Linked DNA regions of Homo sapiens: region 2 is linked to region 1. The links come from fine-mapping of genetic effects on gene expression. Tissue or cell type: subcutaneous fat. Region 1 holds a variant in brackets; the other region holds the start of a gene. All regions are shown on one strand. Distances are between the middles of the regions.

Region 1 (5,231 bases):
TTATTTCTGCCTTAATTTCGTTATTTACCCAGTACTCATTCAGGAGCAGGTTGTTCAGTTTCCATGTAGTTGTGTGGTTTTGAGTGAGTTTCTTAAGGGAATTGTTGGCAAGATGGCCAAATAGGAACAGCTCTGGTCTGCAGCTCCCAGCGAGACTGATGTGGAAGGTGGGTGATTTCTGCATTTCCACCTGAGGTACCTGATTTATCTCATTGGGACTGGTTGGACAGTGGGTGCAGCCGACAGACAGCAAGCCGAAGCAGGGTGGGGTGTTGCCTCACCTGGGAAGCACAAGGGGTTGGGGAACTCCCTCCCCTAGCCAAGGAAGTCCCACTAAGGGACTGTGCCATGAGGAACACTGCACTCCAGGCCAGATACTGCGCCTTTCCCATGGTCTTCACTTTTTTTTTTTTTTTTTCCAAGACAGGGTCTTGTTCTGTCACCCAGGCTGGAGTGCAGTGGCGTGATCTCGGCTCACTGCAACCTCTGCCTCCCGGGTTCAAGCAATTCTCCTGCCTCAGCCTCCTGAGTAGCTGGGATTATAGGTGCATGCCACCACGCCCAGCTAATTTTTGTGTTTTTAGTAGAGACGGGGTTTCACCATGTTGGCCAGGCTGGTCTTGAACTCCTGACGTTGTGATTCTCCTGCCTTGGCCTCCGAAAGTGCTGGGGTTACAGGCGTGAGCCACCGTGCCTGGCCGAGTGACATACATTTTTAGCTCTACTAAGAAAGAGTTCAAGCTAAGAGTCTTTGATCTTCTAGGATTTCTAACACATGTGAACTCTACATGCTTTCTGTAATTCTACCAGATGTAGCCAAATTGTTCATAGTGAGTCCATCAACTTATAACTAGCTTTAGTTACAGATCTCTTGCCTTCTACTATTATACAGGGTGGATTTTCAGATGCGGATGTTCTTTTGATTTGTGGTTTGCCCATTTCCTTCCAAGAAGTTGTCAAAAATGGCCTGGACTGGTGGAACCTTTACCATAGTTTATGCTGAGATAGCATTATTATGCCAGTTAAACAAATGCAATACTTTGAAGACTCTGACCTAGTTAGTTTAGACTTTAGAGTGAAAAAACCTGAAATGAAATAGAGGAAGAGTATTAAGGTAGAAGCATATAGCTTGGGGGAAAATATATCTATTTTTTCATTTTGTTTATTGTATTCTCTTTTTTTTTCTCAATTTTTTTTACCTCCTCTTTGACCCATGGATTATCTAAAAGTATTTTGTTTAGTTTGGAGATTTTCCTGTTATGTTTCCATTATTGATTTCTAGTTTGATTTCATTGTGGCCACAGATTACATTTTACATAATTTCAGTTCTTTTAAATTTAAGGTTTGTTTTATGGCCCAGGATATGATCTGTCTTGGTGTATGTTCTGTTGTTGTGTTCTGTTGTTGGGTGGAGTTTTTCTAAGCCTGTATGTTACTGGTTGATGTTATTGTTTAGTTCTTTTATATCATTGCTGATTTTCTGCCTAGTTGTTCTAGTAATTGTTAAGAGGGAAGTGTTGAAGTCTCCGTCTGTAACTGTAGGTTTGTCTATTTCTCCTTTCAGTTCTATCAGCTTTTGCTTCATATATTTTGTGGCCCTAAACGCATGCACACTTCAGGTTAACATTCTTGGCTGGGTGCCATCATTGCAGCACTTTGGGAGGCCAAGGCAGGTGGGTCGCTTGAGCTGAGGATTTCGAAACCAGCCTGGGTAACATGGCGAAACCCCATCTCTACCAAAAATACAAAAATTAGCCGGGCATGGTGGCGTGTGCCTGTGGTCCTAGCTACTCAGGAGACTGAGGTGGGAGGGTCACCTGAATCTGGGGAGTTTGAGGCTGCAGCGAGCTGAGATTGTGCCACTGCATTCCAGCCTGGTGACAGAGTGAGACCCTGTATTTAAAAAAAAAAAATCCCCTGCACTCTTATTTATTCAGCCCTCCCTACCCACAACTCATAGTTCTTGGCCAATCTCTCTCTCTCTCTTTTTTTTTTTTGAGACAGTGTCTCTGTCTAGTGTCCAGGTTGGAGTGCAATGACCAGATCTCAGCTTATTGCAACCACTACTTCCTGGGTTCAAGTGATACTTCTGTCTCAGCCTCCCAAGTACCTGGGGCCACAGGCATGAGCCACCACTCCTGGCTAATTTTTGTATTTTTTGTAGAGACAGTGTTTCACCATATTGCCCAGGCTGATCTCGAACTCCTGAGCTCAAATGATCATCCTAACTCAGCTTCCCAAAGTGCTGAGATTAGAGGTGTGAGCTACTCCACCCAGCCTAGATAACTTCTTTTTTTTAATTTTTATTTTTAGATGGAGTCTCGCTCTGTCGCCCAGGCTGGAGTGCAGTGGCATGATCTCGGCTCACTGCAACCTCTGCCTCCCGGGTTGACGCCATTCTCCTGCCTCAGCCTCCCAAGTAGCTGGGACTACAGGTGCCTGCCGCCACTCCTGGCTAATTTTTTGTATTTTTAGTAGAGATGGGGTTTCACCGTGTTAGCCAGGATGGTCTTGATCTCCTGACCTCATGATCTGCCCACCTCAGCCTCCCAAAGTGCTGGGATTATAGGCGGGAGCCACCACGCCTGGCCTTTTTTTTTTTTTTTTTTTTTTTGAGAAAGAATCTCACTCTTGTTGCCCAGGCTGGAGTGCAGTAGTGTAATCTTGGCTCACTGTAACCTCTACCTCTGGGTTCAAGTGATTCTCCTGTCTCAGCCTCCTGAGTAGCTGGGATTACAGGTGCATGCCACCATGCCCGGCTAATTTTTGTATTTTTAGTAGAGATGGGGTTTCACCATGTTGGCCAGGCTGGTCTCGAAATCCTGACCTCAAGTGATCTACCCGCCCTGGCCTCCCAGAGTGCTGGGATTACAGGCGTGAGCCACTGTGCCCGGCCAACAGTTTTGTTTTTGAACAAAACTCGAACAGTTTGTTCCTGAAAAATATTGCGCCACTTCTTTCTCCCACCATTTTCTAGTGTGTTCTAATTGATTTCCCCTTATA[C/G]GTAAAATGTCACTCATTTTCTGCTGGCTATTTTCAAGATTTTTTTGTCTTTAGTTTTCAGAAAATTAATTATGATGTCTTGGCATGGATTTCTTTGGGTTTATCCTTTTCAGAGTTTGTTCACCTTCTTGAATCTGTGGGTTGTCTCTTGGGGAATTTTGAGTTATTTCTTTGAGGGCTTTGTTAGTCCCACCTTTTTTCTCCTCTGCTTTGGCAACTCTGATGACATGAATGTTAGTTTTTTTTTTATTATAGTTCCCTAAGGTCATGTTCAATTTTGTTCAATCTGTTTTTTCTCTGTTGCTCAGATTGGGTAATATGTATTCTAGTTTACTGATTCTTTCCTCTCTCTCCTCCATTGTCCTGTTGGGTCCATCCACTGAGATTTTTCTTTTGGTTACTGTGCCCTAAATTTTCCATTTGGTTCTTCTTCATAACTTCTGTATTCTGAGACTTTGTATTTCTTTGCTGAGTGCAGTAGGCAGAATGGTCCTCCAAAGATGTCCATGTCTTAATCCCTGGAACTGTGAATATGTTACTCTACATGGCAAAATAAACTTTAAAATAATGTGCTTGAGGATTTGAACAGGGGGATTAGCTTGGATTGTCTGGTGGGTGCAATCTAATTACATGGGTCCTTAAAATCAGAGAAACTTTCCTGCTTGTGGTTAGAGGAAGATGTGACAGAAAGGCACAGAGATGTCATGTTGCTGGCTTTGAAGATGGAGGAAGAGGGCTACATGCCGAGGAATGTGGGTAGAAGCTGGAAGGAGCGAGGAAATAGATTCTCCCTTAGGGTCTCTACAAAGTAACAGCCTTGTGGACAAATTGATTTAGCCCAGTTAAGACCCATGTCAGACTTCTAACCTACAGCTAACGAATCTGCATTAAGCTGGTGAATTTGTGGTGATTTGTTATGGCAGCAATAGGAAACTAGTACACTGAAGCTACTTTATTTGTTTCAGGGATGTTCATAATTGCTCATTGAAGCATTTTCATCATGGCTGCTTTAAAATCTTTGTCAATTGTTCTAACATGTCATTTTGGTGTTGACATCTTTTTTTTCATTCAGTTTCAATCTTCTTGGTTCTTCGTATGAATGATTTTTTATTGAAATGCGGACATTTTCGTATTGTTATGAGCCTTTTATTTTTTGTTGCAAAAAAATAAAAATAAAGTCTCATAACAGTATAAAAATGTCTGGGTCTCAATCTGTCATTCAGGCTGGAGTGCAGTGGCTTGCTCTCGGCTCACTGCAACCCCCACCTCCCACACTCAAGCGATTCTCCCACCTCAGCCTCCCGAGTAGCTGGGACCACAGGCATGTGCCAGCATGCCCAGCTAATTTTTGTATTTTTTGTAGAGACAGGTTTTGCCATATTGCCCAAGCTGGTGTCGAACTCCTGGGTTTGGCCGGCTTTGGCCTCCCGAAGTGCTGGGATTCCAGTCATGAGCCACCATGCCCAGCCCATGATGAGACTTAATACCTTATTTAAACCTAGTTTTAGCTGGCTTTCTGTGACACCATTCTGGCAAAGAAAGCTGGGTTGCTTCCTTGTAACTGCCAGATACAAGTAGAAGTCCAAGTTCTCCTGCCAGCCTCTTTGACACCAGAAAGGGGGTGCTCCTTGCTATTGGTGGGCAGATGTGTGAATCAGCCCCCCAGACGGTCTGTACTGACACTGGGAGGGATTGGGGGTATCTCATTTCTGCCAGCAGGGATGAAAGGCCAGGTTCCTTACTTTGCCTTTCTTGTTCCTTACTTCTCTGACACCACTCCGGTGGGTGCACTGTACCGCCTCATTTTATCCTTCTGGGGATGGAAGTGTAGACTCCCTGCTTGTTCTTTGTTGGTGTGGATATGGGTAGGGCCAGGGTTGGTTGGTTGGTTTGTTTTTTGTGGTGTTTGGCTGGGATAGTGGTTATTGTCTAGGTTTTCTGTCTTATTAGGCTGCCCCTGTCCTAGTTCTTTGGCTAGAGAGGCTTTTGTTGTGGCTTTACACTTCGTCTGTGCCACTTGGCATTTTCAAGTTTCCGCTTCTTTAGCATCAAGTCTGATATATAAGTCAAAAAGAAAACCTAGGGAACTTACCACTGTCTTTCCTCTGGTCCCAAGGTCCTTTAGTCAGTCTGACTTATTGTCACCTTTCAGTCTTATTTTTGTTTTATATAGAACGTCCAGGGTTTTTAGCTATACTGAGTGGGAGGAATAGGAGAGAAGATGCCTG
Region 2 (5,231 bases), 29 kb before region 1:
AATGTTTATAAAAGTACCATTCTTTAACAATGGTATTTTATATTAGTTGGCCTTAAGATAGAATACTTTTTAAACCAAATAGATCCAACAAATCTGGAAAATATCACACATGAATGCTGTACAAAAAAAATTCTCAAATGACCAGTGCAGAGATTAGTAATAGCTGTTTTTACCCTAGAAGTTGTTTCACATAACATTTTGCAAAATTTCCAAGGAAAACAAGGCAACGTTCTGTAATATGCCACAATTTTTATTGCAACGTGGCCATTTTTGTGAGGGTGGGGAGTTTGATCTCAAAACAATGTTCCATTTAAGGCTCTTTTATACAGAAATTGCCATCATGACTGATATTCAAAATATCTTTAGTGTTGCAGGACTCACATGGTAAACATAAAACTCCTACACTTATTCAGTAGTGTACACTCAATGGAAAACAAAAAGGCATTAATAACAGCTATTTCTTTTAAGAAGATATGCAGGTAACAGGAATGAACACTGAGGTACTAGGATAAGTTGATGACACAGTTAACAAAACTTAATTGGCATTCCTTTTAGGATATTAAACTTATTACAAAAAGTGCTTTTAATGCATAGTGTTATATCCGTGCTGCCATATCACTAAAATAGGCTTGCCAAGGCAGGTGAGGTGTATGAATGCTCAAGCCTCACAGAACTGCAATCAAGTGCCAACTATAAATAATACTGAAAAAAGTTGACCATCTGACCAGTGGATAATACTTTCAAGGCATTCAATTAGCTTATCCTTTGCAGTATTCTAAGCTATTCACATTGACGATCACATACATTGTAGTGCTTGCTGCAAGGGAGGCATATAACCAGTTGTTTTGGCTAAAATATGACAGGAAGGCATTCCTTGGGTTCTATATAAAAGTAACAGTATTCAACAGTCTAATGGCAATCACTGATAGGCTGCTTAAATAAATGATATTTCCTTCATTCATTGTGTTGGAAGGGCCCAGTGGAAAGGGGGAAATACAACAAAAAACCAAAACCTAATACTATTCCAATGGACTGAGCTGGAGAAATGGAAGCTCCTTAAGATCCAGATGGCACTTGACTGTCATTTTATAATGGTTTTCCTTCAAGTGAAACTACTACATTGCCTCCCAATTTCTCTCCAAGTGTCGAACGGTCCTTAATATCATCCAAGCCATTTACTTGCCACTCATGTTTAATACCTAAAAAGAAAAAACATTATCCTATTACTTTATTATAATTAATAAAGAATAATTTCTCTGCCCCAAATATTCAAGTTTGTACCTGTAAATTTCTTTTTAATGGCATCTTTAGAGCTAGCATAAATCATCTTGCTTTTTAAAGGTGCACTTTCAGGAGCCCTACAGAAAAAAAAAAAATTATTGAATCCCATTTATAAGAAAAACAAAGGTAAGACTGACTATGATAATAATAATCCTTGCATTTTAAAAGTACTTTTTTCTTTTGTTTTTACACACCAGAATATAAATACTAGGTCTTCTTTCTTAGACTCTTTTGTTTCGTATGTGGCATCGTACAAAGCATATCGGCAATCATTCAGAGGTAGCAACTTCACAAAAGATGTGTAGGGGTCCTCTACAGTATCACCAATGTCACCCACCAAGATCTGCTTTGCTTCCTCTACAATTATTTGTCTTTTGTCATCGCTTAAACAGAAGAGAACTGCTTTCTTTCTCTTTTTGATCTCCTCTTGTGTAGAAGATTTCCTTACTTTCATATCATTAAAAACTTTGATGACTTCATCATTCACTGTAACTCCAGAAGCCTGAAAATAAACACAGAACAGTAATTCAGAACACGTATTTTGGTTTTAACCAAAATTACTGTTTGCCTAGAGAAGACTCACTTTAGTCTGGACATCAAAAATTGCACCGTACCATGTAAGTCGTCCAATCAGATTTGTCACATTTTAAGAATCAGTAGACGATACAGCGAAGGAGTCTAACTCATCCTGCCCATTCATCCTTCTTAAAGGGGTTTGGACGTGGAAGCGAAAGGGACAAATACAAGTTGTCCCATCCCTGAAATGTTTCCTATTTCACTGGGTGATGTCAGAGCTTCAGGAGTGGCAGCAAAAATACCTTCTGTATTGTGTCAACTCGGCTGGCCTTAAAAAAACACTTTTGGATTTCAGTTAATGCTTCTACTATTTTTTTCTTTAAAGTCATCCTAGCCACTGACGTTTCCTCATAAGGAAAGAGAATCAAGTGTAAACTCCAAACCGCCCACGGCCCACACACAGCTCACATGCAGACACTCCAAAACTAACTGATCGAGTGTAAAAGCTTTTACGGCGAGAAAGCATTTTAAAAAGTGTTTTCCCTCTTCCTTAATCTCCCCGTAAGGGTTTTATTACAGGCCGTCCAGACCCTGACCCACACAGCGTTCGCAGCACGTACCAATTTTAAAGCCTCGCGTGTTAAGTAAAATTAGGAAGCGAAGGGCAAAGGCGGCGCGAGCGGCTGCAGTCCGCAGACCCTCTCGCGCCCCCGCCCGCCCGGCCCCGACCCCCAACCTGCGCCGACGCCCGGGCCCTCCCCGCCCCCCAAAATCCAAAGAGCAGCAGGGCAGGGCCTGACGGCCGGAGGGCAGGCCGGTCGGCTGGAGAGCAGCGGAGCCGCAGAGCAGAAGCGCCCACCTTGGAGGCCAAAATCAGGTTAAAATGGCGGCCTCACTCCCGGGGCCGTGCGGGGGGCTTTTCTCGCCTCGCCGCGGCCTCCCGGCCAGCGCGCTCGTCTTACCATAGTGCCCTCGGCTGTGGCTGCGGCGGCAGCTCGGGCTTCGGCTCTGTGGCACTGGGAGGAGAAGGAGGGGCGGGCGAGCGGGTGGGCAGCGGAGAGTGCGGGGCACGCCGGGAGCTGCAGCCCGAGGGAGGTGGCGGGGCTCGGCGGGCCGCAGGCAGCGGGCGGGGCGGTCACGTGGGCACGCCTGGTCCCCAGCCGGCGCCACCCGCTCCCAGGCCGGCCCTTCTGTCTCGCGGCCCCGGCTCCCCGGCTGTCCGCGTCCTCGGCCTGACCTCAGAGCGCGAGCCCTGCAGGCCGGGGGGGGCGACGCGGTGGTAGCGGAGCCCGGGAGCCTGGCAGAGCCGCCTCCAGCCCCCGAGCATCACCCGTCAAGCCGGTGGGAGAGAGTGCTGGGCTCCCAGAGGGGCGTTTCCACCGCCTCCGTAGGGCCCTGCGCCAGGGGTGGGTGCGTGTGAGGGGAACTCCTGCGAAGGTGTCTTTCCTTATTTACCTGTGGTTTTCCCGAAAGAGGCTGGATTTCGACATTTTGAGTCTTTTTGGAAAACCCCCAGTTGTTTAGAGATAAATGAGAATAAATACTACACGAGATTGCTCCAGTTGATAGTACTTAGCAAAAACAAAATGATACGCAGTGTTGGTAAATCACTTTTCAAAACTCTGGTTGAAATAATAATTATGATTAAAAAATTACGTGGTAGCATTCCTTAGTAATATCCTTTTACATTTTAGACTTCATAGGAAATGGATTGTACTCTCTCTTAGAGATTTCATGAAGCTCCAGCTATGACAGCTGATATCAAATAAGCCGACGCAGCCTCTTCTAGCAAAGCCCATATAACTGCGCCAAGGCAGTTTCTCTTTTTTTAATCTTAACTCCTCCATACCTCAGGGTTCTTCATGTGTAAAACAAACTGTTATTAAATTATCGTTAAGGCCCTTTCCAGCTTTAGATTTCAGTTTCTGAGTATATCAATGTTCAGTAGGAAATGGTGTGTTTTTGGTGGTCTCAGGATTGAGGTTAGGCAGGAAAGTCATGAGATGGTGTTTGCCCTAGATTGCGTGATAAGTTCTTTCAGCCCAAATTTACTGTATTTTAAATGGAACATGCTAGGCATTGAAACAGACCTATTTTTCTGTCTATATCTTGGGTTTGTTTTCTTAATTGGAAGATAGACTTCGTTTAGAGACAAAAATTGAGAAGGGATTTCCCAATGTCTAAGCATGAATCCCAAGCAAGTGGATAATACTTTATATCTAGCTGGTACATTACAATTTATGGAACCTTTCACTTTATCTGTTGAACTTCCAAGAAGTCATGGAGAATGTCTCTCCAGAGCTCTGATCATCTGCTATGTGTAGGTATTAGCAAATTCCTGTTCGCTTCATCTTGCGGTTACCTTCCCTTCCCAACCTCAGAGATTTGCAGCAGCCCCAGCAGAGACCAGGTCTGATGACACTGGGGCCTAAAGTGGGTGTCAGAACCTTACCCACCAAAGCTGGGGATTCCAAAGATGCTAGTCACCCCCTAGCTCGGACTCCAACCCCTTTCCATGCCTCCCATTCTCTCTTACCCTCCCCAAACAGAGATGGTAATTCACATGTTCTAAGATTCTTTTCCTGAAGTTATTTTTGTCTTGCATATATTTTGTTACATTATAATAACTTGTTTATGTCTTCTGCCACCCTACTGCGCTGTAAGCTCCTTAAGGATCTGAGTCCTGGTTATCTTTGAATTTCTGGAACCTGACAGATAGTAGGTGCTTAATAGGTGCTGAAATAATACATTTAAGATGCTTTAGTGCTGTAAAGAGAATGAAAAGGAAGCTTCTGAAAATTGTGAAGCCTTTCTACATGCCCTTGTGAGCATGGCACTGAGAATGTCAGGGCCAGTAGCAGCTTCCTGCCTTCACCTCTGTGAGTTATAACCAGAACTTACCACCACTTGGTAAAGGGGCAGCATTGCCAATCATTGCTGCATGAATTTTGGTCACTGTGTAGTGGAGGGGGATCTGAGTGTCAGATACCACATGTATTAGCGTTCGACTGTTGCTATAACAAATTACCATAAAATTACTTGTTTAAAACAACACAAATTTATTATTTATGGTCTTACAGAGTCAGAGAAACAAGTCTCTCTCTCTATATATATATATTTAAGAGATAGTCTCTGGTTCTGTTGCCCACCCAGGTTGCTGGAGTGCAGGATGTGATCATAGCTCACTGCAGCCTCATACTCCTGGCCTCAAGTGAGCCTCCTGCCTCAGCCTCCCGAGTAGTTGGGATTACAGGCATGAACCACCACAACTAGCAGAAATAAGCCTGATGGGGCTAAAGTCAAGAGACTGTAGTGGGAGACTCCTTTGCCTTTTCCAACATCTAGAGGCTGCCCATCATTTTTTTTTTTTTTTTTTGAGATGGAGTCTCACTCTGTCACCCAGGCTGGAGTGCAGTGGTGCTATCTCGGCTCAC

What was found. PIP is the estimated chance that this variant, and not a neighbour inherited with it, causes the effect.
Region 2: CFL2 starts here. The variant in region 1 is the best candidate, but not a certain one, in a credible set for the expression of CFL2 in subcutaneous fat (GTEx, PIP 0.87).

Annotation. Positions count from the first base shown.
Region 1 is chr14:34,741,071-34,746,301 of GRCh38, forward strand. No RefSeq gene overlaps it. Among named protein-coding and RNA genes, the nearest start is that of CFL2, 29 kb to the left of the region's middle. The variant C/G (reference allele first, on the strand shown) is at 3,004.
Region 2 is chr14:34,711,779-34,717,009 of GRCh38, forward strand. CFL2 (cofilin 2) reads right to left here and starts at 2,815. Exons shown (of 4, transcript NM_138638.5): 1 at 2,760-2,815; 2 at 1,476-1,783; 3 at 1,282-1,358; 4 at 1-1,199. The coding sequence starts at 2,762. The coding sequence ends at 1,087. RefSeq lists silencers at 2,512-2,571, 2,662-3,251.